Linked DNA regions of Homo sapiens. The protein of the gene in region 2 purifies or fractionates together with the protein of the main gene of each other region. This does not show direct contact. Each region holds a gene or a part of one and is shown on either strand. Other genes may lie near its edges.

What was found. The genes of interacting proteins can lie anywhere in the genome.
Region 1: the proteins of ZNF287 (region 2) and MPP1 purify together in Homo sapiens (affinity purification with mass spectrometry; one large-scale study listed by BioGRID and IntAct). This does not show direct contact.

The regions. Positions count from the first base shown.
Region 1 is NC_000023.11:154,788,424-154,791,991, reverse strand, and holds part of MPP1 (55 kDa erythrocyte membrane protein), read left to right. Parts: intron 1-144; coding exon 145-223; intron 224-923; coding exon 924-1,009; intron 1,010-1,969; coding exon 1,970-2,038; intron 2,039-3,568. UniProt on the Homo sapiens protein: Essential regulator of neutrophil polarity. Regulates neutrophil polarization by regulating AKT1 phosphorylation through a mechanism that is independent of PIK3CG activity.
Region 2 is NC_000017.11:16,566,186-16,570,026, reverse strand, and holds the start of ZNF287 (zinc finger protein 287), read left to right. Parts: upstream 1-1,326; intron 1,327-1,912; exon of another isoform or gene 1,913-1,984; intron 1,985-2,097; 5' UTR 2,098-2,295; coding exon 2,296-2,698; intron 2,699-3,404; coding exon 3,405-3,502; intron 3,503-3,841. UniProt on the Homo sapiens protein: May be involved in transcriptional regulation.

The sequences.
Region 1 (3,568 bases), on a different chromosome or scaffold from region 2:
AGCAGGCTTCATGCCTGTTCTAGTTGAGGACTATCCTGGGTATAAATGGAAAATATTTTCCTGAGAAATTACCGTAAGTTCTTTCTAAAATAACCTCAGAAAGAGCTTAAAATAAAGCTTATTGTGCCGTCGCCTTTATTTCAGGGAATCACGCTGAAGCTGAATGAAAAACAGTCCTGTACGGTGGCCAGAATTCTTCATGGTGGCATGATCCATAGACAAGGTACTCTGTGGGAGCTCTGGGTGGGGTTTGATTCAGGGATTAATAATTTACTCCCTGTTCAGTGGTGTGGGGCATGAAGCTTATAATCCTCCAAACTGGTAGCATTTTTGTGAGTGTGCCAAGAGACTTTTTGTGGCTTAATAACTGGCTCTGTAGAATCAGTACATGATAAGATCTCTATGTGAATTGCCCAGTGCCACCATCTCCCTATCTGAGCCTTCTTTCACACCTATTTATACCAATATTTTTCTAGTAAGTTAATATTTGAGCAATTGCCACATGCCACCCATTGCATTAGACTTGGAAAGGACAGCAGTACCACTTGGTAGCATTTTGGGGTTTGAGCTAAACAACAAAGAAACATGGAGCTTGCTGGTGAAAGAGGAGTACTGAGTTCTTTGCCTTGCTTTGTTATTCTTTTTAGTGTATACATCTGTGTCATAGTCTGGAGTCAGTAGCCACTCTAGTTCCAGGAATTTGAGGACAAGGTGTTTTATTGTGCTGTTGGACTACTGAGGCCAAGGAGGATGAGACCATCTTAAACTGTCAAGTCAAATGTTTTCAATCCTGAGTATTTGACACAATCTGTTTCATAACATGCTGTAAATCCTGGTTTCTCTTCTATGGTATCTTGAGTTACATTGACAGCTCCTGTTTGAACTTTTGTTCTTTTGTGGATTGATTTTTCATTTCATGGCAGGCTCCCTTCACGTGGGGGATGAGATCCTAGAAATCAATGGCACAAATGTGACAAATCATTCAGTGGATCAGCTGCAGAAGGCGATGGTGGGTATTTTCTATGCTAGATGAAGACCTTCCATTGTCTCCATAAGTGTTGATCCACATTGGTATCAGTGACCTCATCTCTCTGTCAAAGTATTTGTACCTTCTTGAGGGGGCTCTTTTCACTGCTAGTCTTTAATCTGTGTAAGAAATGATAATTTTCTGCCTTTATTTAGTAAAATTCTAAAGCAGGGCAAATAACCCAGAGCATCAATCTGGTGTTCCATGAAGTAATGCCAAATGAAGTAAAGCAAGCTATAACGTATATAGTAGAATCCCATTTTTGTTAAAAACAAACAATACATATGTATGCATAATGTATGTAAATATTTGTAATGCTTTTGTTGGTATGGGGAAAGGCGTGGATATATATGCGCCATAGTTCATTTTTAGGAACTTCTTCAGGACTTTTTGGGGTAAAGAATGGGGAAGAAAAGTCTTTTTTTTTTTTTTTTGAGATGGAGTTTCGCTCTGTCACCCAGGCTGGAGTACAATGGCGTGATCTCGGCTCACTGCAACCTCCGCCTCCTGGGTTCAAGCGATTCTCCTGCCTCAACCTCCCAAGTAGCTGGGATTACAGGTACCCACCATCACGCTGGCTAATTTTTGTATTTTTAGTAGAGACAGGGTTTCACCATGTTGGCCAGGCTAGTCTTGAACTCCTGACCTCAGACGATGCGCCCACCTCAGCCTCCCAAAGAGCTGGGATTACAACAGGCGTGAGCCACCGTGCCCAGCTCGGAAAAGTCTTTAGTTAGCTTTTCTTTGTTACTCTTTGCATGTCTTCATATTGTTATGCTGATTTATGGGGCACATGACACTTTTGTATTAAAGGAGGAATTGTCCTACAAAATCTCAAAATGTAAAGATGGTTGTTGGGGAAAAAAACCTGGGACTTTGAATGAATGATCACATCATTCAACTTAGTTTTCTGTACAATTTTATGTCCATTTTTTTTAATAGAAAGAAACCAAAGGAATGATCTCATTAAAAGTAATTCCCAACCAGCAAAGCCGTCTTCCTGCACTACAGGTGGGTGGCACCATTTTCTCTGTTGTCATGATGGCAGGAGTCGGGCCATGTTGTCTTATATTCTTTGAAATTTGATTATAAGGGATGTGAGTCTAACTTTAAGTTCTAAGTATCTCGCAAGTGTGTAGCTGCTTGGCTCAGGGTCCCATTATTCCCTGCCTGGTATAAAATACAGGAGCTCATTCCCCTTTCCTCAATGGAGAACATAGTGACGACAGGAGTAGAGAATGAATGAGCCTTTGCTGCTAGTGGTCAGGTAGGAAGGGAGAGGGTAATTTTATTCTACAGATGGTAAGGAATCAATACAGCTCCAAGAGGAAAATGGGTAAAGGGAATGAAGAGATCATTCACAGGAGGAAAACTACAAATGAGCATTGAACATATGAAAAAATATTTTATCTTACCGATCATCAAAGAAATGCAAATTAAAATATGCATGAGACACCAGTTTTCACCAAGCAAATTGGCAAATACTTTTTAAAATAGCAATAATAAAGCCCCGTGATTGATAGTGGCAAAGTAAAGAAAGAAACAAAAGATAGATAGAATCTGTTGAGCACTTATTCACAATTTATTGAGGGTCTACCATGTACAAAGTACTGTGCTAGAACATGGAGGTGATATAAAGAGAAATGGTTCCCAGTTCACACATAGCTCATCAGCCAGTAGAGGAATAGATTGGACAGGGCCATGGCAAGTCAATGTGGAAGAAGGAGATATTTAAAAGAATAAATCTGAAGTTTCTATTGCAGGTTACTTGTAGTGTGACGGTATAATTTTCTTAAGTAAACTTTTAAATTGCAGTTTTGGCATATATGGGCATATATTCAACAAAGGGCACAAATCACAAGTATAAAACTGGATGAATTTTCACAAACTGAGTACACCCATGCCTAAGACCGCCGCCCCCTCACCATGCGTGTTTCCTCAAGGCCCACCATAACCCTGACTTCTAACAGCAGGGATGAGTTTTGCCCCCTTTTGAAATGTATTAACGTTGAATTATACAGTATGAATTCTTTGGTGTCTTATTTTATTCGCTCAGTATTATGTTTATGGGAATCATCTATATTGCTTCATTCTCATTCATTCATTGTATGAACATGCTACAATTTAATCTATTCTGTCAGCTTTTTTGGTCTTACATTGAATGGCTGCCATTCACCAAACAGGATCTAATTCAGCAATATGAGAAGATTTACTGCCTGAAGGGCAATAAATTCACCACGTTAACAGAAAAATGGAGAAAAATCATATGATTTTTGTGCATGTGTTTTGTGGATACATCTATGCCTTTCTTTTGAGAGTAGAATTGCCAGGTTGTAGGATATATGTGTCTTCATCTTTAGGTGATATTGCCAAATAGTATTCCAAAGTTGGTGAACCATGTTACATCCCCAACTGCACAGTATGACAGTTCTGGTTGTTCTGTATTCTCACCAATACTTAGCATTGTCTGATTTGTTGGGTTTTTTTTCACCCTTTGGCCATCCTGATGGTGGTATCACATTGTGATTCTAAAAATTCTCT
Region 2 (3,841 bases):
ACCCACTCAGTTCCCCTTTCAAATTCCTCACCATGAAATTTATGAGCATAATACGGTGATTGTCCTTCAAAACCACTAAGTTTTGGGGTGGTTTGTTAATAGAACAGTAGATAACGGGAACACCTTGAATATGTTTTTCTATGCTTTTATTTTTCCAGTGTTTTATGTATTTTTGTTTTGTGTCTCTTAGAAATAACAGCTACTCGGGAGGCTGAACCCAGGAAGTTCAAGTGAGAATCACTTGAACACAGGAGAATCACTTGAACCCAGGAGGCGGAGGTTGCAGTGAGCCGAGCTCGCACCATTGCACTCCAGCCTGGGCGACAGAGCGAGACTCCGTCTCAAAAGAAAAAAAAGAAAGAAAGAAAGAACATGGGTTTTTTTCCCCCAATCTGAGAGTCTCAGAATCAAATTCCTGAGGAGGAAGTGAAAACCTTTCACAGTTAGTATGTATGCACAGTAAAGCCCGAAACCGCACATTAAGTCTTTCTGCCTTTAGACCCACATCTTCCCTGCCCATTCTTCCTCTAGGAAATCTGGCGCCCAGTTTTCTCTGCGTAGTTGGCGCGGGGCTTCAACTCCCGGCGCTCCTCCAGCTACTGGCACCTCCCTGGCCTCCAAGACGTCTACCAGACCTGCGTCTGCCCGGGGAAACTTTGAAGTTCCCTTCGGAACCTCGCAGGCTGACAAGCAAGTCAGAGCGATGGGTGGAGGAGGTTGCCATGGAGACAGGTCCAGGGCCAGAGGCGCGGGAGGGGGAGGCGGCAGCTTGGGCTCCGATTGGCTCTGCGGGCGCGCAGCGTTCCTCTGGCGCACATGCGCAGTGACGCCGAGGCGAGGTCGCGGCTAAGCAGAGGCGCCGGGGTTTCTGGGCCGGGCTTCTCAGGACCGGGCTGGAACGTGCAGCTCCTGGCCGGGACACTCTGTGCTTTGCGGGGAAGGGAAGTGGCGGAGCCCGAGGATCCGCTGCCGCTCGGGACTGAGCCCGCCACGCAGGCGCCTGTGCCAGCGTCGCCATTGTTGCCTGTGGCCTTAGGGCCGCTCCGGCTGCCCGTCGGCCGGGTCCCAGCGACAGGTATTGATGTCCGGGCGCAGCGCGCGAGTGTCCGCGCGATCAGTGACAGCCCGAGCCCGTCCACGCGCGGGCTCCCGTGCTCGTGGCTTGCGGGAGGGCAAAGACGGGGTGGAGGCTGCTGTGGGCCCAGTCCCAGCGTTGCGCGTCGCACGGTCCCCGACTCCCCCGCTGCCCTCGACCTCGACCCTGCGGCTGAAGAGGAGTAAGAGGCAGAGGGACTTGGCCGGGAAGGGGAGGCGACAGGAGGCAAGGCAAGGCTGTCGCATCACCTCCGCAGGGCCTTGTAAACAGTTGTCTTTGGTGGCACGACTGTGCCTCAGCAGGGCTCGGAGCTGGAGCCTGGGGAGAGGTGGTGTCGGTTCTCCTCCAGATCAGGCCGGTTCTAAGGTTTCCTTCGAGAATCCTGGTTTCGAATATATCCCTAAAGAACTGTCTCCTATAGAAGCACTTAAAGGACTTGAAGTCACACCAACCTCTTCACTCTTTTCCAGTCCAACCCGCTGGTCTTCCCAACCCTCTGATAGTGAAAGGCTAGAATCGGCTGGCATTAACATGCAACGCAGATAAATGGCTCGCCCTTTCCCCTGACAGTTCCCTTGGGAACCTTGAGCACTGTATTAAGAAGAAATTCTCCTAGTTTCTTCCAAGTAACAGATTCACTTTGTTATTGTTGAGAGTCCGTTCAGTCATTACAGCTTCTGTAACATCAGTGACTAAAATAATGAAACTATTTTCTCTATAAAAATGTTTAATTTTTGTTACAACAGGTTAGAGGTTTAATCTGTTGTTTGGCTTAGATTCGAGTCATTGCCTCTGACACTACCTTTTTAATAGCAGCTCCATCCCCCACCAACCCCAAGCAGATGGCAGTTCCCTTACAAGTCTAAGGATATAGGGGAGGAAGACAAGGTAAAGCTTATGTGTGTTCATCTATGCACACTGCGAGTCTGTTTCTGTGTGTGTATATGTATAGTAGAGTACACCAGGGATTCTTGACCTTGTGGTCCATGCTTGTGTTTCAGGGTCTCTTATCCATCCCTGCAAGTTCTGGGCTCAGAATTTGTCACTAAGGCTGCTAACTCTACCTTGATTCTGTTCTGCCCTCGGCTGCAGCAGCCTTTGATATAGTGTCCTTGTGACTCTAGCATGAGACTTCAAGCAGTTGGCTCACTACTGGAGAAATAAAGGATATTGCCAGATTGACTCTCCTGTCTGTAGCAATGTTAGCCTCAAGCAAGAGGATGAACAGTTCTTCACGTTCTCAAATCCTTCTAAGGTGGAAGTCAGACAAGGCTCAGAGTGGACCCTACAATGTTGAGAAGGAAATCCTTACTTCAAGATTCTTGCGTGACACTGAGACCTGTCGACAGAATTTTAGGAATTTTCCATACCCAGACCTGGCTGGTCCTCGAAAGGCATTGAGTCAACTCCGAGAGCTCTGCCTTAAGTGGCTGAGACCTGAGATTCACTCAAAGGAACAAATTTTGGAGCTGCTGGTGCTGGAGCAATTCCTGACCATCCTGCCTGGTGAGGTTAGGACTTGGGTAAAGTCCCAGTATCCAGAGAGCAGCGAGGAAGCAGTGACTCTGGTGGAGGATTTGACTCAGATTCTAGAAGAGGAAGGTGAGAATCATAGAGCAGAGAGGGGAGGAATCCCTGGGTGGTTAAAGAAGACAACTAGCACATCTGAGCAGCTCCTTTAAAGAAATCAGGGAGAGCACTGAGAGGTCCAGGATGCATTTTTTAAAAAGAAAGAAACTGGGGAGAACAAAGGTTAGTGAGTGAGAACAAGGCTTTAACATGAGCTCCATCCTGCATGGTGTTCTCCTTCCAGATTGCTTGGGAGCAAACACACATTATCTAAACCCCCAAGAAAAACGTCTTGAAATAATGACCAGACGCAACCAAATTACCACTGTGTGAGCCCTCAGAAAGTACCTTCAGAGGTTTGCACCATTCTACTAATAAATCATTTGCTTTGTGAATTGAATTTTACAATAAAATACTTCCAAAAAAGGAAGAAAGGGTCTAGAGAACATTCCCTTATTAAGAGATAACTCACAAAATTAATATCACATAAGGATTTAGTTAAAATGTGAATTTTGTTCATACTCTTTAAGATTTTTAGAGCGAGCTTGTTTTTGAAGTCTGTTTTGATGTCTTAGGACAAGTCATTGGCCCTTTCCTCTGATGCTTTGAAGTAGGAGTGCTGTTTTTGATTTCCTTCTTACTTCTCGATTTAAGAAAGTGTAGGCATCTATTTGGTGAGGGGTTTCCTAGGCTATTCAGAAAGGACTAATCTCCCTCATGACCTCTTTCTCTTCTCTAGCTCCTCAAAACTCTACCCTTTCCCAAGATACCCCAGAGGAAGACCCCAGAGGAAAACATGCTTTCCAGACAGGATGGCTAAATGACTTGGTGACCAAAGTGAGTGTGACTGTCTTTTCTGATTTTAAAATGCCTTCTTAGTGTGTGAGGACATTTTCTGACCTGGCCCTATAACTACTGTGCCCCCAGAAGCTCTATCAAGGACTTAAGCCCCAGTTTCTCTCCTATGTTATCTTGGTCTGTTAAGGTAGGTGAATGTACTATAAAGAAAAGGTGCTTCCATTGCCTTCCCTTGATATGTCTTTCCTTACTTTGACTTTGTCAGCAATATCACATAGAGAATACGAGATTGACCTCCACAGCCAGATGGATTTAGGTTTTGTTTCCCGGCTCTACCATTGGAACTGCAATTTGGGACAAGATACTTAACCTCTCTTA